Linked DNA regions of Homo sapiens. The protein of the gene in region 1 purifies or fractionates together with the protein of each later gene. This does not show direct contact. Each region holds a gene or a part of one and is shown on either strand. Other genes may lie near its edges.

What was found.
Region 2: the proteins of S1PR4 (region 1) and LEMD3 purify together in Homo sapiens (co-immunoprecipitation; 2 studies listed by BioGRID and IntAct, with this or other methods). This does not show direct contact.
Region 3: the proteins of S1PR4 (region 1) and FIRRM purify together in Homo sapiens (co-immunoprecipitation; 2 studies listed by BioGRID and IntAct, with this or other methods). This does not show direct contact.
Region 4: the proteins of S1PR4 (region 1) and TBC1D24 purify together in Homo sapiens (affinity purification with mass spectrometry; 2 studies listed by BioGRID and IntAct, with this or other methods). This does not show direct contact.

Annotation. Positions count from the first base shown.
Region 1 is NC_000019.10:3,174,332-3,180,851, reverse strand, and holds S1PR4 (sphingosine 1-phosphate receptor 4 precursor), read right to left. Parts: upstream 2,084-6,520; 5' UTR 2,060-2,083; coding exon 905-2,059; 3' UTR 520-904; downstream 1-519. UniProt on the Homo sapiens protein: Receptor for the lysosphingolipid sphingosine 1-phosphate (S1P). S1P is a bioactive lysophospholipid that elicits diverse physiological effect on most types of cells and tissues. May be involved in cell migration processes that are specific for lymphocytes.
Region 2 is NC_000012.12:65,235,566-65,242,592, reverse strand, and holds part of LEMD3 (inner nuclear membrane protein Man1), read right to left. Parts: intron 4,092-7,027; coding exon 4,012-4,091; intron 3,925-4,011; coding exon 3,779-3,924; intron 2,665-3,778; coding exon 2,563-2,664; intron 2,458-2,562; coding exon 2,355-2,457; intron 1,685-2,354; coding exon 1,506-1,684; intron 1-1,505.
Region 3 is NC_000001.11:169,847,013-169,854,039, reverse strand, and holds part of FIRRM (FIGNL1-interacting regulator of recombination and mitosis), read right to left. Parts: intron 6,351-7,027; coding exon 6,237-6,350; intron 4,541-6,236; coding exon 4,436-4,540; intron 4,410-4,435; exon of another isoform or gene 3,776-4,409; coding exon 3,695-3,775; exon of another isoform or gene 3,603-3,694; coding exon of another isoform or gene 3,534-3,602; exon of another isoform or gene 2,224-3,533; coding exon 2,104-2,223; coding exon of another isoform or gene 1,987-2,103; exon of another isoform or gene 1,251-1,986; coding exon 1,053-1,250; 3' UTR 328-1,052; coding exon of another isoform or gene 268-327; 3' UTR 1-267. Other genes in the region: SCYL3 (protein-associating with the carboxyl-terminal domain of ezrin), read left to right, coding at 268-327. UniProt on the Homo sapiens protein: Regulates PLK1 kinase activity at kinetochores and promotes faithful chromosome segregation in prometaphase by bridging kinase and phosphatase activities.
Region 4 is NC_000016.10:2,499,106-2,506,132, reverse strand, and holds the end of TBC1D24 (TBC1 domain family member 24), read right to left. Parts: intron 6,777-7,027; coding exon 6,713-6,776; intron 6,299-6,712; coding exon 6,203-6,298; intron 5,866-6,202; coding exon 5,643-5,865; intron 5,330-5,642; coding exon 5,175-5,329; 3' UTR 403-5,174; downstream 1-402. UniProt on the Homo sapiens protein: May act as a GTPase-activating protein for Rab family protein(s). Involved in neuronal projections development, probably through a negative modulation of ARF6 function. Involved in the regulation of synaptic vesicle trafficking.

The DNA.
Region 1 (6,520 bases):
GTGTGGAGCTGAAACGTCTCCACTGGAGTTTCACGGGGCAGGCAGTTGTCAGCCCCTGTGGCTGGCGGGGAGCGTGTACAATCAACCCTGTGCTTCGGCTTCAGTGATTAAACTGTTTTACCCACCGGGAAAGCCGAGGCCGTTCATGCTGAAGGGGATGTGAGGGAAGATTCCCCCAGCCCAGGAAGCCAAGGTGGTGCCTCTGCCAGCCCCAGAGAGTGGGTCCCCAAAAGATGCAGAGGCCAGAGATGGGGCATGGGCCCTGCCATTTCTAAAGGGGAAGTGAACAAGAAGAGGCGGCATTAACTGTCATTGTCACCCCCACTTCCCGCAACGCCCAGAGGTTGTCCACACACACACACACACACACACACACACACACACACTCCACCCTCACAGGGCACTGGCCCGTGGCCCTCTCTAGCAAAGACACACCCGGCTGCCCCTAGATCCACAGCCCCCCTGAGCCACGGCCCCCACGCATGCACGCACCAGGGAATAAGAGGCCGCAACATCACGTACCATGATCGAACTTCAATGTTGCCAGGGCATGCATCCCACAGTCCACCCCTTGCAGCCTGGGAGCCCTACTGAGGCCCAGAGAGGGGCCGGGACTTCCCCAGAATCACACAGAAGCGGGGTTGTGGGGAACCCACTCGCCCCCACACCAGGGTGCTCTCTGCTCCTACGGGGAGGTGGGGTGGTTGCCTCCTTGTCCAGGGTGACCATGGGAAGCCCATTTGGCGTCAGAAGCCCCGAGAGGCCACCGGGAAGACCATGGGGGCCTGTCCCGTTCCCTGCTCCCCATACAGGCGAGGCTGCGTGCACACAGCTTCCTGTACCCCAGGAGGGCCTGCCTGGCACGCACCCGGTGGCTGCACCATCCACACGCAAGACTGCAACTTCAGATGCTCCGCACGCTGGAGATGCTGGACAGGGGCTCCCGCATCCGAAAGCTGAGCGAGCGGGAGCCGCGAAAGCTGTCCCTTGGCCTCAGAGAGCTGTCGGTGGTGGAAGCTCCGGAGTGAGCCTCGACGGCCCGGGCCAGGCAGTCCCCGGGCCCTCGCATGCCCAGCCGGAGACACCCGCAGCAGAGGAAGCTGAGCACGGCTCTGCACACCTCCCTGCTGCGGAAGGAGTAGATGATGGGGTTGACCGCCGAGTTGAGGACGGCCAGGGCCAGGATCCAGTCCATGCCCCGCAGGTACTCCTGGGCCCAGAGGTTGGAGCCAAAGACGTCGGCCAGCAGCAGCCCGAAGAGTGGGCCCCAGCACACCAGGAAGGCCAGCAGGATCATCAGCACCGTCTTCAGCAGGCGGCGGGCCTTGCGGCGGGCCGCTGGGCGTGGGGCCTTCTGCCCGCTGGCCTGCACCAGGCGGAAGATGGCCCCATAGAGGCCCATGATGGTGGCCAGGACGCCGGCGAAGATCACCAGGCAGAAGAGGATGTAGCGCTTGGAGTAGAGGGGCAGAAGGCTGGAGCAGCGGTCAAAGGCGCACAGGCAGTTCCAGCCCAGCAAAGGCAGCATCCCCAGCAGCGCGGCCAGCAGCCAGCAGAGGCCGATGAAGCCGTAGACGCGGCTGGTCTTGGTGGCCCCGCTCTCGGCCACCGGCCGCACCATGGTGGCAAAGCGCTCCCCTGCAGTGAAGAGCAGGCTGAAGGTGGAGGCGGCCAGGGCGGTGAAGAGCAGGCCCTCCCGTAGGAACCACTGGGCGGGCGCCAGACGGAAGGTGCGGGCCCCCGACAGCAGCACGTTGGCCAGGTAGGCCGCGCCCGTGAGCAGGTCACTCAGCGTGATGTTCACCAGGCAATAGTAGACCCAGCGTCGCGACCGCATGTGGCTGGTGATGGCCGCCAGCACCAGCAAGTTCTCCAGCACCACCAGGCAGCTGGCGGCCACCGACAGCCCCCGCAGGGCCCCCAGGCCGCCATCCTCCGGCCCCCCGCGCCCGGCCAGCCGGCCCGAGTGGTTGTAGTGCAGAACAATGAGCCGGCTGTGCCCGCCGGCCGCCAGCTGTTGGCAGGACTCGGGGGCCACCGGGGTCCCCGTGGCGTTCATGGCCTCCCCCGGGGGCTGACTGAGGCCCGACGCAGGGTGGAGCCACCCGCCTTGCTGGTCTTGGTTTCCTGTTATTTGAAATTTCCTGTTATGTTCAAGGTGCCCTCCAGGGTGGAGGTAAGGCCGAGGACAGGGAGGGGCACCCCAACGGTCGGCCCCCACCCGGGCTCCTGGAGCCAACGCGCTGGGGCTGCCCTGGCTGTGAGGACCCCCACCCCTGCCCTGGCTGCCTTCTTCCTGTCCTCGAAAGCCGGAGACCCGCAGGGAGCCCCGGAGCCGTCAGTCACGGAGGGGAAATGAGTCCCCACTCGGGATGGGCCACCCCTTTCCAGCCGGACGACTCCTCCCCACCAGCCCTGATCACCCCCGAAGCACCCGTCGGCTCCACTGAGGTCTCCCCACATGCTCCACCGGCGCTCAGCACACAGCAGGTGCCTAATAAATGTCAAGTGCCTGCATGCCCTTGAGCACTGACTCATCCGACTTGATCCCCGAAACAGGGCCTGATGCGTTACAGAAGAGGAAACTGAGGCCCAGAGAGCCCGGTGCGTTGCAGAAGGGGAAACTGAGGCCCAGAGAGCCCGATGCGTTGCAGAAGGGGAAACTGAGGCCCAGAGAGCCCGATGCGTTGCAGAAGGGGAAACTGAGGCCCAGAGAGCCCGAGGCGTTGCAGAAGGGGAAACTGAGGCCCAGAGAGCCCGAGGCGTTGCAGAAGGGGAAACTGAGGCCCAGAGAGCCCGATGCGTTGCAGAAGGGGAAACTGAGGCCCAGAGAGCCCGATGCGTTGCAGAAGGGGAAACTGAGGCCCAGAGAGCCCGATGCGTTGCAGAAGGGGAAACTGAGGCCCAGAGAGCCCGAGGCGTTGCAGAAGGGGAAACTGAGGCCCAGAGAGCCCGAGGCGTTGCAGAAGGGGAAACTGAGGCCCAGAGAGCCCGATGCGTTGCAGAAGGGGAAACTGAGGCCCAGAGAGCCCGAGGCGTTGCAGAAGGGGAAACTGAGGCCCAGAGAGCCCGATGCGTTGCAGAAGGGGAAACTGAGGCCCAGAGAGCCCGATGCGTTGCAGAAGGGGAAACTGAGGCCCAGAGAGCCCGATGCGTTGCAGAAGGGGAAACTGAGGCCCAGAGAGCCTGATGCGTTACAGAAGGGAAAACTGAGGCCCACAAAGGCGGCCTGAGGCCAACTTTCTGCCCATGGGAGGACACACAGGTCCAGGGAGAGAGACCCCCAGGGACAAGCTGGTAGGGTCTCGGGGCCAGGCGCCCATTTTGGGATTCATGGTTGCCTCTCCTGCCCCTGAGCTCACCCTGCTGGGAGCAGAGCTGCTGGCCCCCTGGGGCAGCCCCCCACTGGGATTGAGGTGCATAGGAAAAGTAGGGACTTGCTCACCCCATCCCCATGGCCCTGCTGACAACGGCTCACGGTGACTCAGCCTGAGGTGAGGTGGCTGTGGGTCTAAGTGGGAGACACACCCTGCTCTGGCGTCTGAGGAGGGAGGCAGGCTCTGCCCTGGCGTCTGAGGGGGAAGCTTGGACCTGCCTGGGGTCTGAGGGGGGAGGGTTGGCCTTGCCCTAGGTTCTGAGAGGGGAGGCATGACCTTACCCTGGGGTCTGAGCGGAGAGGCTCAGCCTTGTCCTGGGGTCTGAGGAGGGATGCGAGGCCCTGTGCTGTGGTCTGAGAGGGGAGACACACCCTGCCCTGGGTCTGAGGAGGGAGGTATGCCCTGCCCTGAGGTTTGAGCGGGGAGGCTTGAACCTGCCTGGGGTCTAGGGGTGAGGGTTGGCCTTGCCTTGGGGTCTGAGTGGGGAGGCATGGCCCTGTCCTGAGTCTGAGGGGGGAGGCGAGGCCCTGCCTTGGGGTCTGAGGGGAGAGGTGAGGCCCTGTCCTGGGGTCCAAGGGAGGAGGCGAGGCCCTACCCTGAGGTCTGAGTGGGGATGCTCAGCCTTGCCCTGGGGTCTGAGGAGGGAGGCTCAGCCTTGCCCTGGGGTCTGGGGCATGTAGGGGCTTGGACATCATCTGTCACGGATGGAGTGTGAGGTCTCTGCTCTCCAGCTCCCCCAGTGTCTGTGACCCCCCACTCGTCCCCATCCAGAAGGCCTTGGGGTGTGGGGTGATTTGGGAAATAATGCAGGCCCCAGAAGTGTGAGTAGGACCCAGGATAAGTCCCTGCTGGGAGCCTCCTCCCGCCTGCAATCACCCCCAGGCCAGGCCCACTTACCACCAAGGAGGGTCCTGAGGGGCCCCACCTGCCCTCTGTCCCCCCAGGAGCCTGTGGTCTTCAGCCTTCCTGAGACAATGGTGTCCTTGGCCTCAGGGTGGGGGCAGCTACACTAATTCTACCAGTAAGGTGTCCTGGAAGGGTCACAAGTGTACTGCGAGGACACAGGTGTCCCATGAGGGGCACAGATGTCCCGTGAGGGCTCAGGTGTTGAAGGCCGAAAGAATGAGGGTTGTGATCAACTCAGTATACCACTGGAGGCTACGTGAGTAAACAGCAAACTGTTCTCATGAAAGCAGGCTGTTGGCAAACTGACAAACTGCGTCTGCCGCCCAGAAGGAATGCTGAGGGCAGTCACGCCCCAGGCACAAGTGTTTCTTGCAAGTAGGCAAATCTGAAACCTGTTAGCAATAACGTGAACGTGTGAACAATCAAGCAGCTGGCCAATCGTTTCCTCCCCCTGCTTTCTACCCAATAAGTACGAAGGGCTGTAGAAGCTTGGGGGGCTGCCTTTGCTCACTAGAAGCAGGGAGCTCTCTTTTTCTTCCCCTGGTCCCTTCCTTTAAAACAGTTTCTTCTGTCTTAAGTTTTCATTTCTACATTCGTCCCTTCGTTCAGTCTTGTAATGATGGTCTCAAGTAGTAACAATAGTAACTGTCGTAGTGACAGTCTCAGGTAGTAATCATGGCAACCACACACAGGCGTCCCATGAAGGGTACAGGCATCCCATGAGGGCACAGGTGTCCCATGAGAATGCAGGCGTCCCATGAGGGGCACAGGCATCCCATGAGAACACAGGCATCCCATGAGGGGCACAGGCGTCCCATGAGGGTACAGGCATCCCATGAGGGCACAGGTGTCCCATGAGAATGCAGGCGTCCCATGAGGGCACAGGCATCCCATGAGGGGCACAGGCATCCCATGAGAGCACAGATGTCCCATGAGGGGTACAGGCGTCCCATGAGGGTACAGGCATCCCATGAGAACACAGGCGTCCCATGAGGGGTACAGGCATCCCATGAGGGCACAGGCATCCCATGAGAACACAGGTGTCCCATGAGAACACAGGTGTCCCATGAGGGCACAGGCGTCCCATGAGAATGCAGGCGTCCCATGAGAACGCAGGCGTCCCATGAGGGCACAGGCGTCCCATGAGGGCACAGGTGTCCCATGAGGGGCACAGGCGTCCCATGAGAACACAGGCGTCCCATGAGGGGCACAGGCGTCCCATGAGAACACAGGCGTCCCATGAGGGCACAGGCGTCCCGTGAGAACACAGGTGTCCCATGAGGGGCACAGGCGTCCCATGAGAACACAGGCGTCCCATGAGGGCACAGGCGTCCCATGAGAACACAGGTGTCCCATGAGGGGCACAGGCGTCCCATGAGAACACAGGCGTCCCATGAGGGCACAGGCGTCCCATGAGAACACAGGTGTCCCATGAGGGGCACAGGCGTCCCATGAGAACACAGGCGTCCCATGAGGGCACAGGCGTCCCATGAGGGGCACAGGCGTCCCATGAGAACACAGGCGTCCCATGAGGGCACAGGCGTCCCATGAGGGCACAGGTGTCCCATGAGGGGCACAGGCGTCCCATGAGAACACAGGCGTCCCATGAGGGGCACAGGCGTCCCATGAGAACACAGGCGTCCCATGAGGGCACAGGCGTCCCATGAGAACACAGGCGTCCCATGAGGGGCACAGGCGTCCCATGAGAACACAGGCGTCCCATGAGAACACAGGCGTCCCATGAGGGCACAGGCGTCCCATGAGGGCACAGGCGTCCCATGAGAACACAGGCGTCCCATGAGGGCACAGGCGTCCCATGAGGGCACAGGCGTCCCATGAGAACACAGGCGTCCCATGAGGGCACAGGCGTCCCATGAGGGCACAGGCGTCCCATGAGGGCACAGGCGTCCCATGAGAACACAGGCGTCCCATGAGGGGCACAGGCGTCCCATGAGAACACAGGCGTCCCATGAGGGCACAGGCGTCCCATGAGGGGCACAGGCGTCCCATGAGAACACAGGCGTCCCATGAGGGCACAGGCGTCCCATGAGGGCACAGGCGTCCCATGAGAACACAGGCGTCCCATGAGGGCACAGGCGTCCCATGAGAACACAGGCGTCCCATGAGGGCACAGGTGTCCCATGAGAACACAGGCGTCCCATGAGAACACAGGTGTCCCATGAGGGCACAGGTGTCCCATGAGAATTCAGGCGTCCCATGCGGGGCACGGGCATCCC
Region 2 (7,027 bases), on another chromosome or scaffold:
AGAGGGATAAAGGAGAGATTAAGAATTATCCCTAAGTTTATGGCAGAATCAACTCAGGAAAGGTATCATTAACTAGACTAGGAACACTGAAGAGGATCAGGCTGGTGTACATGTTGAATCTGTGGTGCCCACCTCCTAGTACAGAAATATATAGTTGGGTACAAAAATCTGAAAACCAGACTTCATTCAAAATAAAAAATTTGGGAGTTATCCCAATATGGTAAATTAAGTCACAGCAAGACGATTATCTAGGGAGAAATGGCAGAGTGGGAAAAAAAAGATGGCCTTGAGAAACTCTAACACCTAGAGGTGAAGAAAAAGAGGATAATCTAGAAAAGGACTGAAGAAAAAGTCTGAGGTAGGAGAAAAAAAACAGAAGAAGGTGGCATCCCCAAATCCCAGTGAAGAAAGTTTCAAGGAGGGCTGAACTGTCAAACACTGTTAAGAGGTCAAGTAAAATAAGGAATTCTCTATTTTCAGTTTATAGGGAAACTGAAATGCATGCATCATTTAGAGGAAATAGTATAATCATTGGCAACATGAAAGCATCATTTTTTTAATTTAAGTTCTGGGATACATGTACAGGACATGCAGATTTGTTACATAGGTAAACGTGTGTCATAGTGGTTTGCTGCACCTATCAACTCAAACCCATCACCCAGGTATTAAGCCCTGCCTGCTTTAGCTGTTTACCCTGACAGAGCATCACTTTTATGCCATGTTTAAAGAAGCCTCTTATTCAAGCTTTTTCAAAGTGAAAATTAATTGGAGAATAAAAAAGGAGTGACTGGACTTTGTATTGCATGTCCAAAACAACTTACCTTTTCCACAAATACTATGTTTAGCAAATACTGACATACTTTTATAGGGAAAAAGTCATAATTTTCTGATGCATTGTTTTCTGCTTTTCTGTGTAGTAAAGGTTTGGGTACATATGACAGCCAATCTTCAAAACCCCCTATAAACTTACCCCTTTCTTATTTATACATGTTTTTGAAACTATGTAGGCATTAAGAAAAATATGGAAAGATACCCACAAAAGTTACTTGGCAGGAGGAATATATAAATAGAAAGGTCTTAGTAAGAGGAGGCAGGCAAAAACTGGAAAAAAAAGAGCAGTTAAAAAGTTATGACTTCACTTATATACATATATAGTTTATATATATTTTATTGTATATATAACATAAATTATGTGTCTTATTTACATAAAGAAATTAGATGAAAAGAATGCAGTTAATATATATAATACTAAGTTGCTTCATTAAGTGAAAAAGGCAAGATTCAAGGAATATTCATCTTTATTAAAGATAAACCATTTATGTTTGCATTAGCAAAGATAAAAGTGTGGAAGGATACATAAGAAGCTAACACTGATTCCTTCTACGAAACAGAACGAGAGAGTTTTGCCTTCATACATCTTTGAATTGTACTGTTTCACTTAACACATATTTGTCATTTTGAAAAATTAGAAGAAAATTACTTTTTTGATGTTTAAAAATACATACCTTGACCTTGCCATACTTTAGAAGGTATAACTAATATTTTGTCACAGGATGCAGAAGGCTGGATCCACCGCCAAACCAGAAAATCTGCACCACCTATTCTTCGTGTTTCCGTGCGAACTCTAGACTCATTAGCAGCAAGGAAGTCAACAGCTCTATCCCAGACTTTCTTCATTTTTTTCCTATCATGTGAACAAAATGGCAAATTTACTATCATCTTGGCTTGTCATCTTTTTGAAATATTAGTATCTGAGGTAATAGTTAACTCTAGCTGTTCTTACCACTACTCATGGAGTTTGTTCAAAGAAGATTTAGATGCCTATATCTCATCTCAGATTTTCTGAGTTTCAATTTCCAGAGCTAGAGCACAAACATCTGTATTTTTTTTCCCCAAAAGCTCCACTGGCTTTATGTGTTGCTAGGGTCAAGATGCTGCTTCAGGATATGGAATTATCTTTTATTTTCAAAAAGTTGCATTTTAGTTTTTACTTTAAAAGCTTCATTAATAATAAAGTTAGTACTTAAAAAACATTAGTAAAACACCAGCCACTGGCTGTCATCTATTTCTTTATCAAGATGAAATTAAAGGAAATAAGATGGAGACTAACAACAAAGAATCAAGAATGCCTAGGAATGAGAATGACTTAGAAATCCAGGTGTCACTCAAAATCAGGAGAATGGAAGAGAATTTAGAAAGAGAGTATAAAGTACAAAAACAAAGCAAAACCAAAAAAAACCTGTGCAGTAAGCAAGTCTAGTTGAGAAGGGTCACAGCTCTCAATATAATTTTCAATACTGCAGAAAGCACTTAAATTTTCTGATTTACTTGAACTCATAATGCTTTGAACACACCTGTCATGAGGCTGTATTAAGGAATCGCGTACATGTGGAATAGGCATGTAAGGTTGTAAATCTTTGTTTTCCTGGCAGGCTTCATTATGACTTCGTAAAACATCTAAAAATAAATAAAATTTACAAATGAATCAATCACTTGACATAATGTAGTTTAATCATGCAATGACTCTTCTAGAAATAGTTGAGATTCTTACAAATATCATACCTATAATCTTTACCACCATATCATACATCTGCCTTGTTTCCTCCTCTTCTTTTGTCCATCGATATTTCATGTAACGCAGAACGACACAAACCATCACTACACCTGTAATATTAATATACTTTGTATTTTAAAAATTGTGGTCAATATCATTCAATAATATTTCAGTGATTATTTTAACTGCCACAACGGAATGAACCTTCAAGACAGATGGCTGAATTAGCTATATAATTAAAACTACATAAAAAAATTTAATACTGAACATTTTCCAAAGATTCACTTTCTAGAAAAAAGCATTTCTTCCATTACACTGATAAGTGAACATTTAAATTCTAACTACTATTTAAAAATATATATATATAACTATGTTTCACAAACTTTTTTCCTTTGAAGCATAAAACGACTAGAAAAGTGAACCTCATGAGATTAAACATACTAAATCTTACTTTAAGTAAAATGAATTTTTCTTTTGTTGTTGTTGTTTTTGAGATAGGGTCTTACTCTGTCATCCAGGCTGGAGGGCAGTAGTGCAATCATGGCTAACTGCAGCCTCCAACTCCTGGGCTCAAGAAATCCTCCTACCTCAGCTTCCCAAGTAGCTGGGACTACAGGCACGTGCCACTATGCCTGTCTAATTTTAAAAATTTTTTTGTAGAGGTAGGGTCTATGCTTCCCAGGCTGGTCTTAAACTCCTGAGTGCAAGCAATCCTCCTGCCTCCCAAAGTGCTGGGATTACAGGTGTGAGCCACTAAAGCTGGCCAAAATGAATTATTTTTAAAGAAGAAAGAAAGAATGAAAAAACAACTCTCACCTAAATCCCTATTATCAATTAAAAAATGATAAAAATTTTAAATGTAGGTAAATTACATTTTAAAAACTAAATTTTAATAAACTTTATAACACTTTATTATTTAAAAATAAGCTCAATTTTTGTATTTTTCAATTCTACTTTCTAAAGTAGATTTCTATGTATATACTGACCACACTTGTTTTTCTGTGACAGTCTTATAACAAAGTTTTATTTCTACCTCTCCTTATATTACTGCTTTCTAAGCCTTTAGAATGATTCTGACATTATTTTTATTATATTTAGTGAAGACATCTAGCTGTGACTTATGTGGCAACCATCACAAAAATGAATTCTCAACTCTGGCATTTAGTGAAATACACACAAAAATTCAGGCTGCAATTTATCTCATTTCTTATCTTTACAACTTACCTAAGCATAACAACAATAATCTGTGAGTTACAGTAACAAAAGCACGTCGAAAACGACACCAAAAAGACATCAGTGGTCTTGTGGACTGTAAAAACTGCACATCAGTTATATTTGTCAATTCTTCCTCAGGGCCAAAACCAACACACCTATTTAAAAATAAGTAAGGTAGAATTTAAAGTCAAAAACCATTTCTCCCAGTACAGAATGGTCAAAGTGGAAATCAGATCCTTTACCTTATTCCAACATCTTTTCCATTTTCTAAGATCCACTGCAATGAAGTGTTAAATATACCTTCATATTCAGGACCTAAATCCTAACAAGAAAAATAGAGAAAAATAACTATTCTTAATCTACATTCGACTCTCTGTAAAGTATCCTTTATAACACACTCTATATAACATTTTTATTTTAACTACATAACATAAAATATTCATTACAGAAAATTTTAAAAAGAATGAGAAAAAAGAAAAAAAAAGTTAGCATTTTCCCACTACTCCAATATAATCAGTGTTAATATTTTGCTTTTTTATATTTTACATATTTGGGAACTGAGTCTCTCTCACTCAGGCTGGAGTGCAGTGGGACAATTTTGGCTCACTGCAGCCCCCGCCTCCTGGGTTCAAGCAATTCTCCTGCCTCAGCCTCCCAAGTAGTTGGGATTACAAGCATCAGCTACCAGGCCCAGCTAATTTTCTTTTTTCGTACTTTTAGAGAGACGAGGTTTCACCATGCTGGCCAGGCTGGACTTAAACTCCTGACCTCAAGTGATCCGCCAGCCTTGGACTCCCAAAGTGCTGGGATTACAGTCATGAGCCACTGCGCCTGGCTTGGAAGTTCTTTTTTTATCATTAGTTTATCAGTGCCATCATAAGAGTGAATTTACCACTTTTAAAAATGCAATATTATTTATAGATGAACAAATAAATGGCAAACTCTTCCAGATTTGGATGTTTCACAGACAAGTATTCTCAACACATAAAAGCAGTAAGCCTATCAACTAAAGAAAAACTGACCGGGTTACCAATTATAAGATTTGAGCATTCAAGTAAAAAGTAGAATTTTGAAAAACTAGCATTCATCTTTGTGACCTGGACAACTTCACAATACTTGAAGACCTTTCCAATGAGATTTGTGTGACATTAACAAATGCAGTTTTTTGATATGGAATAATGAAATGTGACCAATGCATCTGAAAATGACCAATGCATTTGAAAAATTCTGATTTTTATAAAAACCAATCACGCATAGGTAAAAGATCCATTCAAAGTACAAAATAAAAGGATTTTATGAGACAAGAGTACAAAAAGTTCACTGGCACAGTCTGACATTCCACATTGCAACTAACATTTAAGAAACTACTACTTATAGAGGTTTGGTATGGTATCAAAGAAAATATCTATCTACAATTACCTGAAAAGGCAACTAAAATACTTTCCAATGTTTTGACTACATATCAATGTGAGGCTGGATTTTCATGACATACTTCAACTAAAACATCATGACAGATTGAATAAAGAAGCAGATAAGAATCCAGTCACCTTTTATTAAGCTACACATTTAAGAGATTTATAAAATATATAACAATGCCACTGTTCTCATTGAATGTTTTCATTCTGGAAAAGTTATTTTTCATAAAAATACATTACGTTAACATATAATAGATTCATTTTTCTTATTCTAAATACATAAATTTTTTTCAGTTTTAATTTTTAATATAAACATGTATTTGTAATACATATTTACCATTAGAAAGTAAATATATCTTTCTAATAGAAACAAAAACATATAAATGTATATCTCCCACAAACAAAAGCCAGAGTCCTCAGTAATTATAGGGAACCAAAAAGCTTAAGAACTGCTATGTGTGGGTAGAGTATTTTTAAATTAAAATAGTAAAAATAAATGTGGTATCATATTACACATACTACTGTTCTACTTGTTTTCTTCATGGAACAAAATATTGTGTCAATGTCAGTTTACATGGAAAAAACCCTATTTTTTTCAACAAAATAGTATTCCATTGTATGATTATTCTATACTTTTAATCAACACCTTATTAATGAACATTTAGAATATGTCCAATTTTTAAAAATTTATCAAATATAATACTGTTATAAACACCTTTACCATGTGCCAAGTACTATTTTAGAAACTAGAGGTGCAGCATAAACAACACAGTGAAAAATTCCCTGTGTTCATGGAGCTTGTATTATTAGTATGTCTTTATGTCCCTTTTGAGCAAAAAATGAATTTTTTTTTTTTTTGAGACAGAGTCTTGCTCTGTCACCCAGGCTGGAGTGCAGTGGTGCGAACTCGCCTCACTGCAACCTCCATCTCCAGGGCTCAAGCACAGTCTTGTGCCTCAGCCTCCCAAGTAACTGTGATACTACAGGCGTGTGCCACCACACCCAGCTAATCACTGTATTTTTAGTAGTAGTAGAGATGGGGTTTCGCCATGTTGGCCAGGCTGGTGTCGAACTGCTGGCCTCAAGTGATCCGCCTGCCTTGGCCTCCCAAAGTGCTAGGATTACAGGCATGAGCCACTGTGCCTGGCTCGTAGAGGAAAAAATGAATTTCTAAAAACAGAAATAAAAAGTCATTTCAAATTCTCTCTAAAAAAAAGATTTTTCTAAGAAGTGTCCTATTGTATTTTATCAACAGATTCTTCAACAGCATTGGAAATTATAAGGTTTTCATTTGATCAGTATAGTTTACTTCCTAATATAAAACTGGTAAGTTATTCTAATGTATCAAATTTGCAAATGTAATAAAAAGTTTTATAAAGCAGAACTAATCTTGTTAGGCATCATTACATGAAACTACTATTAGGATTTTTAAGATGGTGAAGATAACTATAGGCCATCTGTTTTTTTAAGCTTGGGTGTTTATTATAGCATTTACAAACATCAAAAAAATTGCAGACAATGTATTTAATGATTGAAAAAAGGTTTATATATGAGATCATTTCAATGGATATTATGAACTTAGAAATAATCATGATGAGAGCTAAACAGCTATCTGCTTAAAAAAATAAAACTACAACATTTAATTTATATATACAGTCATACCTCAGTATTCACAGAGGATTGGTTCCAGGATGCCCCATGGATACCAAAATCCACAGATGTTCAAGTCCCTGATATAAAATTGCATAGTATTTGCATATAACCTATGCACATCATTCTTTATACTTTAAATCATTTCTAGATTACTTATAACACCTAATATAAATGAATATAGATAGCTGTA
Region 3 (7,027 bases), on another chromosome or scaffold:
AAAAAAAGGGATTAAAATAAGGATTTGGTGTCATCCACACTGATTTTTACTGGATTTTATGGTTTTTGAAAAGCTATTTTCCAGTGCCATGGTTTTGTAATCCTACTTTTCAACTTTCTGTTAGAGCTCTAAGTTATTTTACTTAGTACGAGGTAGTGTTTCTGGCATCAAAAGATAAATTTTAAATTCCTGCTTTTTCAAATTTGCGTATGATTTTTGCATATGATTTGTTTCAGTGGGTTCTTGGTGTGCTTTATTTTGTTGCAGGGAGAGGCTGAAGGCTGGGAAGAAGAAGGGGAGCTGAACTGGGAAGATAATAACTGGTGACAATAGATGTGAGTTAAACTTTAGGAAAAAGGATTCCCTTTTTTTAAAAAAAATCAATACCTCAAAAGCAGGCTTTGGGACAAGAAAACCCCAAAGTGGCCTGCTTTTCCCATCCCAGGAGCTCATTATCCAGTCTGTGCCAACTGAAGTAGGAGACTGACTGTGAGTGCTGGCTAAAAGCCCTGGGTGGTGAGGCTCACAGTACTGGTTTCCAGGAGGAAGAGCCTTTGTGCATTTGACTGAGGCCAGTTTCTATGAAGAGCAAGTAGCTGAGGAGAGGTCGAATTTACTGCTTTTTCCAGGACAATTCTGGAAGTAAAGAAAATGTAATTCAAGCTGGTTAGCTTAATTTTGTGCCATTCTTTAACATAAGAGTAAGCTCTATTATGAAATACAACTTTAAAAAATTTTAGCTATAAATTATATAAATGATTTTAAATTGCTGAGGTTTCCTTAGGCAGCTTATTTATTTGTTTACAGTTAGACTATCTGAGTAAATGGTTCTTTGTGGACCTAGGCAGTTCCTGACTGTTCCACATGTAGTACATTGTACCAAAGTTCTTAATAAGAATATTCCCCACAATCCTGTTCTCTAAATGTCAAATAAAGATTATTTTCACTAGATTCAACTTTACAAAATTTGTTTTATATCTGTTAGAAAATGTACAGACATAAGTATTTTCAGTTGACAAAGCATCAAACCCAGTTCTGCCTAGTGATAAGTTTCACCCTAGAGTATGTATGTAACGTTTTAGCTTATCCATCCTTTCTTGGAGCGCCTCCATTTCCATTGAAAGCCAGGCTGGAGCAGGACCCTTTTGGAGTAGTGACTCAGTTGCTTCCAAAGCCCCTGCTATTGTATGCAGCGCTGACCTGTACTCTTCTTCCCAGGGGAACTCCTGACGAGCTCTTTTTGCATAAGGCTGGAAAAAAAACATAAGTAATATCACAATATCCATTCTAAATATAAAGAACCTTCCTTTTGGACTGGAGTAAAGCTTACATGCAAATTTTATTCTAGTCATTGGATCACAAGGGTAGGAGGATGCACCCCAAAACCCCTACACAGTCATCTAGAAAAATATGTAAAGGCATTTTGGTTTATCATAGCAATTCAGAGTGCTACTACCAGTGTCTTAGTTTGTATGTGGTATACAACAAGTATCCTGTCCCAAAGGGCTCCCAATGAGAAGTGCTGCATAGTCCAAGCTTACATGTCTTATAAACAAGTTCATAAATGTATTTTCTTTTTATGAGAGTTTGACTAAAACTTATCAGAATGTTGTTCTTCATGAATTACTACTATACTAATTACTATACTAATAGTGCTCAAAACAATATTTTGAATATCCTTATTGGTGTCAAATTCTGCCTTTTAATAAGTAGATGTGATCTTCAGTTACTGCCAAAAATTATTAGGAGACTCATTTGATTAATAAGGCAAGGAATCAAACTAAACATTTAGGAGTAAGTTTCTTTCATTTTCTTCTGTGGTTCAGTAAAGACTGCATTTATAGCATCACTGGTACAATATGTAACTTCCCTTAAAGGTTACTACCAATAATTCAAACATACTGAAAGAATATATTTGATATGGTGTAGTCCCACTTCTTAATTTTAAAAGCAACTACCATAAAACAGAATTTTACATGTCTAGATCTATTTGATTTGAAATTCAGCATAAGGCTGGAAACCACACTGGTTTGTTTCGTCAGTAAGTAAAAAGGGCAGAATTTGCCTTGTTAAAGTTTGGCCCCTATTGAAATCAGCCCATACCTGTAAAGATGACCTCTTTGCTTCTTCTACAGTCACATTAGCAAAGGGTTCCCAGAAAATACCTTTTTCCTGTTTCACACGTTCCACTTTGGCAGCTTCAGTTTCATCTACAAACCCAGTCTGCCAGGGACCATGAAAAACCAAGCAAATAGCAACATGTTAGCACTCTACTAGATATGAAATGGCCACATAATTTAAGTGCTGAGTGTTCAACCATACTAGGCAAATTCTGGAAGTCACATGGACTGATCTATAAATACTCTTAGTATAATCTGGATTAAATCACTCTACTGTGTTCTTCCTTACAAAATAGTTAGTTATAGAGTTGTCTTTGCAGGAAAAAATGATAGTCTGCTAACCTTTACTGTATAAGCTAAGAAACTGGCAACAGCAGTGTATACACATGTACTTAAAATCCAGCTTAGATGTAATATAAGTAGGCCAAGTGTGGTGGCTCATGCCTCTAATCCCAGGACTTTGGTGGGAGGAATGCTTGAGCCCAGGAGTTTGAGGTTATAGCGAGCTATGATCACACCACCACACTCCAATCTGGGCGACAGAGCGAGACTCTGTCTAAAAAATAAAGTTCAGTGAGTCAAGTGGGCCCATTTCACCTAAAAAAATATATATGTAATATATGTAAAATATATAACGTGCATCATTACATGTAATATATCAAATAATTCAGTTTCTCCTGGTAGTCTAAATTTGTGGTTTAACAGTTCCACTAGTATTTCAATTAACTATTATTTCCTCACACTAAGTTCCCAAGTATGCATAGACATAGGAACCTTGTGATTCAAAATTTTGGTTTTAATTGTAAAAACAGGTCTTGGCTGCAAAGAGAATAAAAAAGCCATGCCAAAAAAAAAAAAAAAAAAAAAAAAAAAAGGGCCCTGAGCTTACCCTGGCTTGGGAGGCTGCCCAAATAAAAAAAAAAAAAAAAAAAAAAAAAAGCCATGCCTAAATTATACCCAAAATATGGTAGTAAACATCCTCTCAGGCCTACCTAATTATGTGATCAAGTGTATTTAATTATGATTATTAATAGCTTAGGGATCCTCATTAGTCATCTCACTGCCTGGATAATCAGTGCTATTACACCCCAAACTACAGGCAGAGGAACTACAAGTGTCCTTTTTTGAGACAGTCTCACTCTGTCGCTCAGGCTGGAGTGCAGTGGCATGATCTTGGCTTACTGCAATCTCTACCTCCCCAGTTCAAGCAATTCTCCTGCCTCAGCCTCCCGAGTAGCTGGGACTGCAGGCGCGTACCACCATGCCCGGCTAATTTTTGTATTTTTAGTAGAAACAGGGTTTCCCCATGTTGGCCAGGCTGGTCTTGAACTCCTGACCTCATGATCCACCCACCTTGGCCTCCCAAAGTGCTGGGATTACAGGCATGAGCCGCCGCGCCTGGCCCCAAGTGTTTTACTTCTGTGGCCTCAATTGCTTAGTAAAAGTCGTCAGCACTGTGCTCAGCACTGTGAAAAGTTTAAGCTAAGAAGACACTCAGGTTGGTTACAGTTACATAATTTCGGAAAAAAAAAAATAGGACAAAGAATAAAACATGAGCCATGTAAAGAAAGTACCTTCTCCAGAAAGGATACAACTTTGTTCTTAGTTTCTTCAGAACTGAGACACTGTGGAACTATCTCTTCATGATTTGTTCCCTATTAAAAAATTGATGAACAAGACCAATTTTAACATTTCAACAACTTGCAAAGACAAATAGATGAGTTTTATGAGCTACCTTAACCAAAAATTCATTTTAAGTAAGAGTCCCAGAGGATCCTCAAAGGTGATAAACTCATGATTCCTTCAGGGTCCCTAAGGATAATACAAAATTAACTTCTGTACAAGTGTTGTAAGCTTTAATTACTTCTGCTGGGTCATACTAATGCTTCTGGACTCCCTTATGATCATAGGCATGACTATACAGCAAATGCAGTAAGAGTAAAGGAGCAACCCATCTTACAGGTTTAGGTTCATCAGCCTAACCCTTATGACTGATAGCACAAAATGAAATGTATTATCATTTGACCCAAAAATACTATCTGCTGGAAGACTGTGTCTGTGTCTGTCTGTATCAGTAGGCCTGCTGTGTATGCCTGTTCTGGTCCTTGTTTATTCAGAGGACCTTACGAAATTCACTTCATTTATCTAAGCCTCATTTTGAGAAGCTGTAAAAGAGATAACGAGTAATGTACCCTTCAGACAATTTTCCGATTGCAATACAGAAGCAGTTCAATAAATGTTTTGGGATTGTTCTGGAATATTTGAAATATTAAAATGGTTTGAAAGTCACTGTGATAAATCAGTTTTATAATTACCTCAGCGAACTGAGTAAACGCCTCCAAGGTATGTTGTTCTAGCAGCCAACTCCTGTCAGCTAGCAGTAAGGCAAACATACAGGACAGGTTGGGCAGAATTCTGTCCTAAAAGAACCAAGCCTTATTATAATAGAGAAAAGAAACCATAATAGATAATCATAAAATAGCCATACATTCAATAAGCCCAGTGTTGTCAAGTTAACATAATCCTGTCCCAGGGGACACACACTAAAACATATTAGGTAATGTCACTCTTTTACTCAAATCCTTCCAGTAGCTCCCTATTTCCCTTGTTAGTGAAAGCCAAAGTCCTCAAATGACCTGCAAAGTCCTGCTACCTTTGTGTTAGCTATACTTGCTTCCCTGAATATGAGGCATGCTCCCATCTCCAGTGCTTTGCATTTCAGGTTTTTACTTGCATGTCACCTTGGTGAGGACTTCACTAACTATATATCCCATTTCAAATTGGACCCCCACATTCATATTCCCTATCTTCCTTCCCTGCTTTATTTTTCTCCATAGCACTCACCACCATTTAATATACTGCACATATCATCATGTTGTTATTGTTTATTGCCTCTAAACAGGCTAACAGTGGGGATTTATTAGTTTGGTTCATTACTGCATTGCCAATGATTAAAACAGCACTGGGTACAGCAAAAACGTAATCTTTCCCGAATGGATAAATCAGTCAATCTCATTTCATGGCTTTAAATGCCTCCTATGTTCTGATGAATCTCAAAAATTTCTTCAGGTCTTGACCTCACTCCTGGGAATACAGAAGGCACTGCGATTTCTGCTTATAAAACATTTGTTTCATAATTTCTAGGCCCGTGCATAGTCCATAGTGGTTCACAAATGAAGCAGCATTTTGGAATAGATTTATTTCATGGTAAAAAGAAGACAGCTCAGATGCCAAGTGTCTTTGGATATTTTTGTCAAGAGAGCTGAAAAGCTGTCAACATTCTATGCTTATCTCATGAAATAAAACCTTAACATGATGGAGACAGATGGGATACTGTTAACTTATGAACAAATAAAAGAGCCCCTTAGAAATTAAATTTTTGGTTTCAAAGAGTTTAATCTACATGTTCTGAGATACTGTCTATAATGTGTTTGCTTTAATTATGTAAGAAAGTTCTCATTAGTGAACTCTTTATAGTCTCTCCCTTGGAGATTGAAGTGTCAATTACTAGAATTACTAAATTTTGACTATAGTAATAAGGAAGGCGTAATTCTCAATTTATGAAGATCTCTTTGCTGTAAGTTCTTTAAATTATGTACTGGCCTGGTAATATACATTTACTGAGGTTTTAAAATTCAGTAGATGTGTATTGCCAGGCCAGTGCAGTATAATTTTATAAATAATCTATTTGTCAGCTATACATATTTTGCAACACTTTCAAAAATATCGTCTTTAAAAACAGGTTCTCTTTCATGGATAAAAAACGAAGAGAATAACTTTAATAAATTACCAAATTTCCTAATTACATGCTGTTCCCTATAAGACAAATACACAGGAACTATGTATTAGAACCCAACTGGAATAAGAATCTAATATGGTAGACTACAGCCAACTAATTATTTGTGTATCAACATATATTTTTCTAAAAGAAAAGAACTTAAAATGAGTTGTATTATAAGTTATAAATAGATTTTATAATCTGTCTGGAACATAGTTTTTTTTTTCCAACTTTGTCAGTAATTGCAAAATTTCAGAAAAAGCCTAAAAATCCCTTAATCACTAACTCTTATAGAGATTTTGTTTTAATAATACAAGAACAGAGTTAAGCAATATTACCTGGATAGCTTCAGGTATAAAAAGTTTTCCTAAAGAAGATACAAAATCCAACATTGCCAAACGAACATAGTCAGGAAGCTCTAATTTAAGTAGCGAGGTCTGCAAAGTTACTGCCTACAGAGGTGAAGACCAAAGAACAGTTATAAATAATACCAGTATTTTGTACAGACACAATAACTGCCTAAGATTTGGATGGAAATGTGGGGAGGGGAAACAAAACCAAACCCAGAAAAAAACAAACACACCACAGCCCCTGAACTTCACTGGTAGAATTTAAATAAGACAATCCTATGAACAAGTTAACAGTTAAAGCATTATTCTTACCACACCCTCCTGCCTCCAACCACGTAAAAAATAAAAGTATACATGTTTCTGAAAAACTTTATATACCAAACCTTTAAAACATATTTTGTACAAACAGTATTTTATTGTGCTTTGATTTATTGCAATTTGAAGATACTGCTTTTTTTTTTTTTTTTTTTTTTTTTTTAGAAATATAAGGTGTGTGGCAACTCTGTACTGAACAAGTCTACCTGTACCATTTCTGCAACAGCATGTGTTCACTTCATGGCTGTCACAGATTGGTAATTCCTGCAATATTTCAACTTGTTCATTAGGATTTTATTACGCTGATTTGTGATCTTTGATGTTACTATTGTCATTGTTTTGGAGCACCACAAACTGTGCCCCTATAAGATGGCAAATATAATAAATTGTGTGTTGTGACTGTTCTACCAACAGGTAGGTCACCAGTCTCTCCCCCTCTCCTTGGGCTTCCCTATTCCCTGAGA
Region 4 (7,027 bases), on another chromosome or scaffold:
CCACCCACCTCAGCCTCCTAAAGTCTTGGGATTACGGGTGTGAGCCACCACACCCGGCCTTGACAGGGATTCCTGATGAAACGTCTGACACTGATTCTTCATGGTGACTCCTCTAAGTCTCCCTAAGACTTTGCTGAGTGTAGCTGTCCACACAGCAGGCACTAGGAACAAAAGAAAACAAGACGGATCAGGGAATGCTGCCGTTCTCACCGGCCACGGCTGCAAATGCGACAGACATGTACCTGTCGCCTCAGTGGAGAGACTCGCTGGTGACCACAATGCGCAGATGCGGTCTTGTCAACCTAGCGCCTCCCTCTCTCCTCCAACACCCTGGAGAAGAGGCGTCCAGGACTTCCCATCCCTCTAAGCCTTCTCATAGCAAGTTATTTCACAGTGACCTTCTTTTACCAGTTCTCGATTTTATTTAGGACTCAAATTAACACCAACCAAACATATCACTAACTCACTTATTTTCACATTTTCAAAGTTGGATTGTGCTGCAAATCCATACATTTGTGCTCACTACACATTTTTTTTATTACATTCATTGAGAGGCTCCAAAGCATCAGTCCAATAAACATTTTTCCAGCCCGATAACCATCCTTCGTAAGAACTAAGAGGTAAAATCATTCACACAACTATTTTTTCCCTTCTATCCTTAGCTCATAAGCATTTGACCAAATGCCAATGTTTTTGCCAGTTCATGTTGTCCGTGCCTTATCACAAGTGACATGTCTACAGGACACGGTATCCACTGACTTTGCTTCCTTGGTCCCAAGAAAAGGTGTTGACAAATTCCATAGTTTGGTAAAATGAGTGAGTCTGCAATTGTGGGAGGCATTTTGTTTTTAGCAATGAATCACATTACATTGTACCTAACTTCTCAAGCACAATCTGATACTAAGATGATGAAGATAGTTCTTAAAAACTCTTTATACCAGATGATTTTTAAAAATCCACATACTTTTCTACCTAACATAGATGTTGTAGGGTGAAGAGCCTATGAGGCTTGTTTGGCACTCCTGCTTCATTTGATAATTTCTCCACGCAAACAAGACATTTAGGCTGAGAAAGAGAACCAGCAAGAATCTGGATGAGCTGGGCACAGCAGCTCACGCCTGTAATCCCAGAATTTAGGGAGGCAGAGGCGGGAGGATTGCTTGAGTCCAGGAGTTCAAGACTAGCCTGGGCAACACAGCAAGACTATGTTCTCCACAAAAAGGGAGGAAAAAAATCTATATGAACCCAAATTTGAGGCAGGTGCTGTATTGCCTAATTAGTGGCCATTTGGGTTTTTTTGACCAGTGGTTTTGTGAGTTTGATGATATTCTGGACTTAGTAAAAATGTGAGAAAGTAAACAACTGTAAAAATTAAATCGATTCCTGGACAGTGGGAAAAAAACGGGGCAATCTCGGCTGGGCGCGGTTGCTCACGCCTGTAATCCCAGCACTTTGGGAGGCCGAGGAGGGCAGATCACGAGGTCAGGAGATCAAGACCATCCTGGCTAACACGGTGAAACCCCATCTCTACTAAAAATATAAAAAAATTAGCCGGGTGTGGTAGCAGGTGCCTGTAGTCCCAGCTACTCAGGAGGCTGAGGCAGGAGAATGGCGTGAATCCGGGAGGCGGGGCTTGCGGTGAGCCGAGATCGCGCCACTGCACTCCAGCCTGGGCGACAGAGCGAGACTCTGTCTCAAAAAAAAAAAAAAAAAAAAAAGGGACAATCTCAATAGGCCTGTGGTTTAGTTAACAGCAATGCAACAATGCTTATTTCTTTGTTTTGATATTGACTTGGGGGAAGGTGAGGGTACATGGAAACCCTGTACCGTCTCTGCAACTCTTCTGCAAATCAAAAATTACTTCAAAATAAAAAGGTACACAACTAAATTACTAAATATAAACTACTCAAGGAGACTGCAAAGGCTTTATGGGTTCAGAAAGTGGATAAGAGAAATATGAAGGCCTCTGAAATCTTCAAAACGTTTTAAAACAAATTCCACTGAAAAACTCAAAAAATGAAGTATGCGGCTTACAAAAATAGAAAAATTAAAATACTTTAGTTCATTAAAACTCTGAAAAAATTCAAGTACAAATGACTTACTCTCATAAGTTCTTTTGCTTAAACTGATTTTCTGAAGCCCCAAAGGCATATAATCTGCTTTAATGAATTCATTTAATAAACTATTTTAAATTAGGTGCAATTGTTGTTTTAAAAATAAATGTTAAACATTTATTCAGCACAAAGTGGTCTATTCAAAAAAATTAAAAAATAGGCTAGGCGCGGTGGCTCACGCCTGTAATCCCAGCACTTTGGGAGGCTGAGGGGGGGGTGGATCACGAGGTCAGGAGTTCAAGACCAGCCTGACCAACACAGTGAAACCCTGCCTCTACTAAAAATACAAAAAAAATTTAGCTGGGCGTGGTGGCGTATGCCTGTAATCCCAGCTACTCAGGAGGCTGAGGCAGGAGAATCGCTTGAACCCAGGAGGCGGAGGTTGCAGTGAGCCAAGATCATGCCACTGCACTCCAGCCTGGGTGACTCTGTCCCAAAAAAAAAAAAAATCAAAAAATAATTCTTTGAATGTTTCTAAAAACAAATGATAATTTATTATGCAGTTTCAACAAATGTTGGCTTTTTTTTTTTTTAAACAAAGAATGGCTACTTCATAGGCAGAGCAGCCACTTTTGGCTAATTTTTAACATCCAAAGCTAATAAATAATCAAGAAGAAATAGAGAACATTAACAAAATAAATTATGTTCTATTTGGGAATACCTAATATCAGATACTAACAAGTACAGTGATAAGAATAAAAAAGATAATAATCACACATACCTTCTAGGTTAGTAGAAAAGTTAGGAAAAGATATTAAATTTAAAGAAACAATATTTTGCATGCACACAAAAAACAAAGAACTTCGCTCATGATGTGGAAATCATGACCCAGCAGCAATCCGTCTTCCTGGTCCAGATCACTGGAAGGCCCGGGTGGGGCCCCCTGGGGGCAGCCACGCAGAACCTGCTGGACTTAACTCGCCAGAAAAATCACCACCCAGTTCAGGAAGTTTGCAGAGGGAAACCTACAAATGGTCCACGGATATGACTTCCCTGCTCCTGGAGGGCTCCCTCTGGAAGAGGCTTGCAGCATTCCAGTCATAGAATGTGGGTGAGCACTACAGCGGGCAGCCTCCCACACCTGCTTGGCTGTAGGCCCAGGAAGCCCCCGGAGGCCCCTCTGGCTGAAGAGATCAGACTCAGCTTGGAGCCCTGGAGTTGATGCAGCAAGACCATGTTTAATGAACACCAAAGCTGGCGGTACAGATGAGGGCCTCAGGGGCTCAGGCGGGGGCCTGGAGGGCTGCGGTGGGCTGAGATGAGTGGCGACTTCCCTCCCATACCTCTCCCCGTGAGAGGGATTCACCCCATCCCCCTGCGAGCCTCTCAACAGTCCTGTGAGGAGGACAGCAGGGCATGGGGACTGGCCCCATTTCACAGCTGGGGAAACTGAGTTCCAGACGGGTTTGTCAGCTTGCCCAAAGCCACACAGGGTTCCCGGTCCTTCCTCCTGCACCACTGTGCGCCCAGTCAGAGGCTACATGAGCAGATGGTCAGGGGAGGCTAAAGCCCCATGGGAGGAGCAGGCAATGGTGTGGGGATGGAAAGTGGCACGGTGCAGGGGACTCCAAGTGGCACTGGCTGGAGGCCAGCAGGGACGGGGGTGGGGGCAGGACTGCTGGTACCTGCCTCTGTGACCCAGGCTTCCATGGTCCCAGAACAGCCACTTGGGCCTCTGTGTCTCCCTTCTCCCCTCCGTGGTGACCAGACCCTCAAGACGAGTTGAAGGAGGTCATGGGGCATGGAGGGAGGTCACAAGGCAGGGGGCTGCCCCCTATAGTGCCCAGAGGCAAGGCCTCCCCTGGCACCTACCTGCGTCTGGCCAGCGCAGGGCTCAGGCAGGGCAGGGGCCCAGGGGCCCAAAGGCTGTAAGGTGAGAGGCTCACAGAAAACCCTGACACGTGGCCAGCCACAGCACCACAAGAGGGACAGAGGGAGGACATGCATCCATGCAAGGTGGCCAAGGAGGTGCTGTGTGGCCAGGGCCAGGGGAGGGCACGGGGCCTGGTGCAGAGAAGCAGTTGGGGCTGCACTGAGATGAGCATGCCACAAAGAGGGGCTTGGGCGTGACCCTGGGCCCCAGGTCATTGCAATGACAAAGAGGTGAAATGGGCAGCTGCAGAGGCTACAGGAGCTCAAGGAGGCCTGGGCTGGAAGGGAGGGGAGCTGAGAAGCCCCCTGGGTCCAGGCTTCTCTGGGCAGACCCCTGGAAATGGAGCTTGCTGGTCTGGGTCGGTCCCTGAGGGCCTCTCCCGGGGCTACCTCTTCAGATGGGAACACGCAGGGAGGCCCAGCAAAAGCTTCAGGCTCTGCAGAAACACAAGGACATGTGACATCCCCCTCCAGCTCCCACCCTCCCTGGGGGTGGAGCCCAGCACAAATCCCACCCTCCTCCTCCCACCCAGCAGCTCCCAAACGCAGCCCAGGGGAGCCTCAGAGGCAGCCAAGAAGGGTTAATGTGAGAGGTGGCCCAGGAGGCCTGGGGAGGGAACTGGGGCAAACGCCCAGGACAGGGGGTGGGGTCCGCCAGGGGGCAGGCCCAAGGGTGCCAGTCTGTTCTCGGGATCTACGCTGGGATTCAGTCGCCAGCCAGCCAGGCTGCAGGGCCCTGCTCAGGAGGGCGCGATGCTATGCGGCACCAGCAGGGGGCACCACAGGCCCACCCTTAGCTGCACGTTCCCACTGCCGTTGTACTCCCACCCCAGGGGCTCAGGCTGCCTAGAGAGGCTCAGGGGCAGCAAGACCCAGACACTCCCAAGGCCTTGGGCTATGGAAGCCTCCACGGAGGAGGAAGGTACTTCCTATGCCAGCTCTGGGTGGGGCTGGGGGCACAGCAGGCCCTCCAGCTCTGACCCAGATGCAGGTGGACTGGGGAAGCCCAGCCCAAACCCCAGGTAGAGGCAGCAGCAGGTCCAGGCAACGCCAGGCTTGGCCATGGGGTCCTGCCGTCCCCCAACCCTGCCTACCACATGGGGGTTTCATCTGCTCTCTGCTGCCCGAGGCGGCAGCCCAGCCTCGGCCCACCGCCCCACCACGGCTCAGTCACCGTGGCACAGGCCGTCACTGGGTGTCAGGGTCCTGGAAGCCCCAGGCCTCCACGGCAGCAATGAGGAAGTTCTCGGAGCAGAGGGGCTGGTTGTTGAAGGTGTCGCAGTGGCTTGTGCGGCCCCGGTTCAGGTCCCCATCGATGTAGAGCGCCTGGCCGCCTCCTCCCCCTGCAGGATGCTCAGGTCAGTGGCGGCCTGACTGCCCTATCAGCACTGACCCAGGCACCTCACCTGCTGTCCCAGCTGTCCTGCCCTGCACGGGCCTCTCTGAAACCGCACAGACCGTTGACCCTCCATAGCCCCCAGGACCAGCTGTCCAGGCTGGTCTCTCCCTTCCAGCCCCCTCCCACCCATCATGCCTGGTCCACCCTGACACCCAGGGCCTCTTCTCTGCCACCCCGGTCAGGGAGGGCTGGGTGCAGCAGCTTCAGCTGCCCGGACCCCACACCCTCATCCCAGAGCCCCGTCTGCTGGCGCTCACCGACGATGAGGCAGTCGCTGCCCCCCGCCATGAACATGGACTCGGTCTTGGAGGGCAGGTTGAAGTGGCGAGCGGCCAGGAAGGGCGAGAGGCGGTCAGCGGGGTCTGAGGAGGCGGAGTGGCTGAGTGGGGCGGTGGGCTCGGCAGCCATCAAGGGTGGGGGCTTGGTCAGCTCGGGGTGCTTGATCACCACCCACTCGTAGCGCTGCACCTCAGGCTGCAGCTGGGGTGGAAGGGGAGTGTGAGGAGCTGGCGCGGGCGTTCGCAGGCCCCTCTGCCCCAGAGCCACAACCCGTTTCATCCCGTGAATCTGCACCCAGAGCCCAAGGTGGGTGCAGCCCGAGCCAGGGGCTGGGGAGCTGGTGGCTCGAGCAGATGAAGCCCCCTGCCCCGGAGCAGCGCACGGCTGAATGATCAAACCCGGAAGCACACAGGGCGATGACGCTGCTGGGTGACTGCCATGGCGACACCCAACAGTGTCCCCAGGGCAGGCGGGTGCTCCTGGAGGGATGCAGCTACAGGGTCTGCGTGGGGGTTTGGGGACACTTGGCCCCACTCACCCTAAACACAAAGCATTCTCCGGTCCCAAAGAAGCCCAGTTTGCCTCCAAACTTATTTCTCTCACTCCAGTCTGTGGACAGGTAAGCACCACACACCTGGGGGAAAGGTCTGGGTGAGGCTGTGCCCGCAGGCCCCCAGGAGCGTCCCTGTGCTCCAGACTACTGACGGGCCTGTCCCAGGTCACAGGTGGGGGTGCAGGCATTGCCGTCTCCCACCCCCACCCCAGGGCAGGAGTGGTGTGGGAAAGGCAGTGTTGCAGGTGTGTGCACCCTGCCCCTGGCTTGGGGCTGGCAATGAGGGTGGGCGGGGGCTGTGTTGGGGATAGTCTCATTTCCCCTTGTGGCCCTGAGTGTGGGATGAGCCCCATGTGCTGGCCATACCCACGCTCTGACTCTGGATCTGGCCCAGGAGGCCTAGGCCCTGAAGCCCATCAGAGCCAGCCCTGGAGCCCATCAGAGCCAGCCCTGGAGCCCATCAGAGCCAGCCCTGGCTCCAGGGCCCCTGCTCACCTCCTTCTGCGTGGTCTTGATGAGCAAGAGGGTAGGCTCATGTCCTTCACACTGGAAGTAGAACCTGGCGTAGAGACACGCATGCCAGCTGTCACCCTGCACACCCTCCCAGCCGCCTCCTGCAGCCTCCGCTGGCCCCAGCTGTCTTGGGGCGAAGACCTGGGAACTGTGCTTCCTTCTCTCTGGGTCCCGACAACACCCTCACCCAGGTGTTCTTCTCACCTGGCCCTTCTCTGCCATCCCCAGGACAGCCTGCCCTGGTGTGACTCAGGGGAGAGGCCTTGCAGTGGAAGGCCCCAGTGCAGAGCCAAGCGC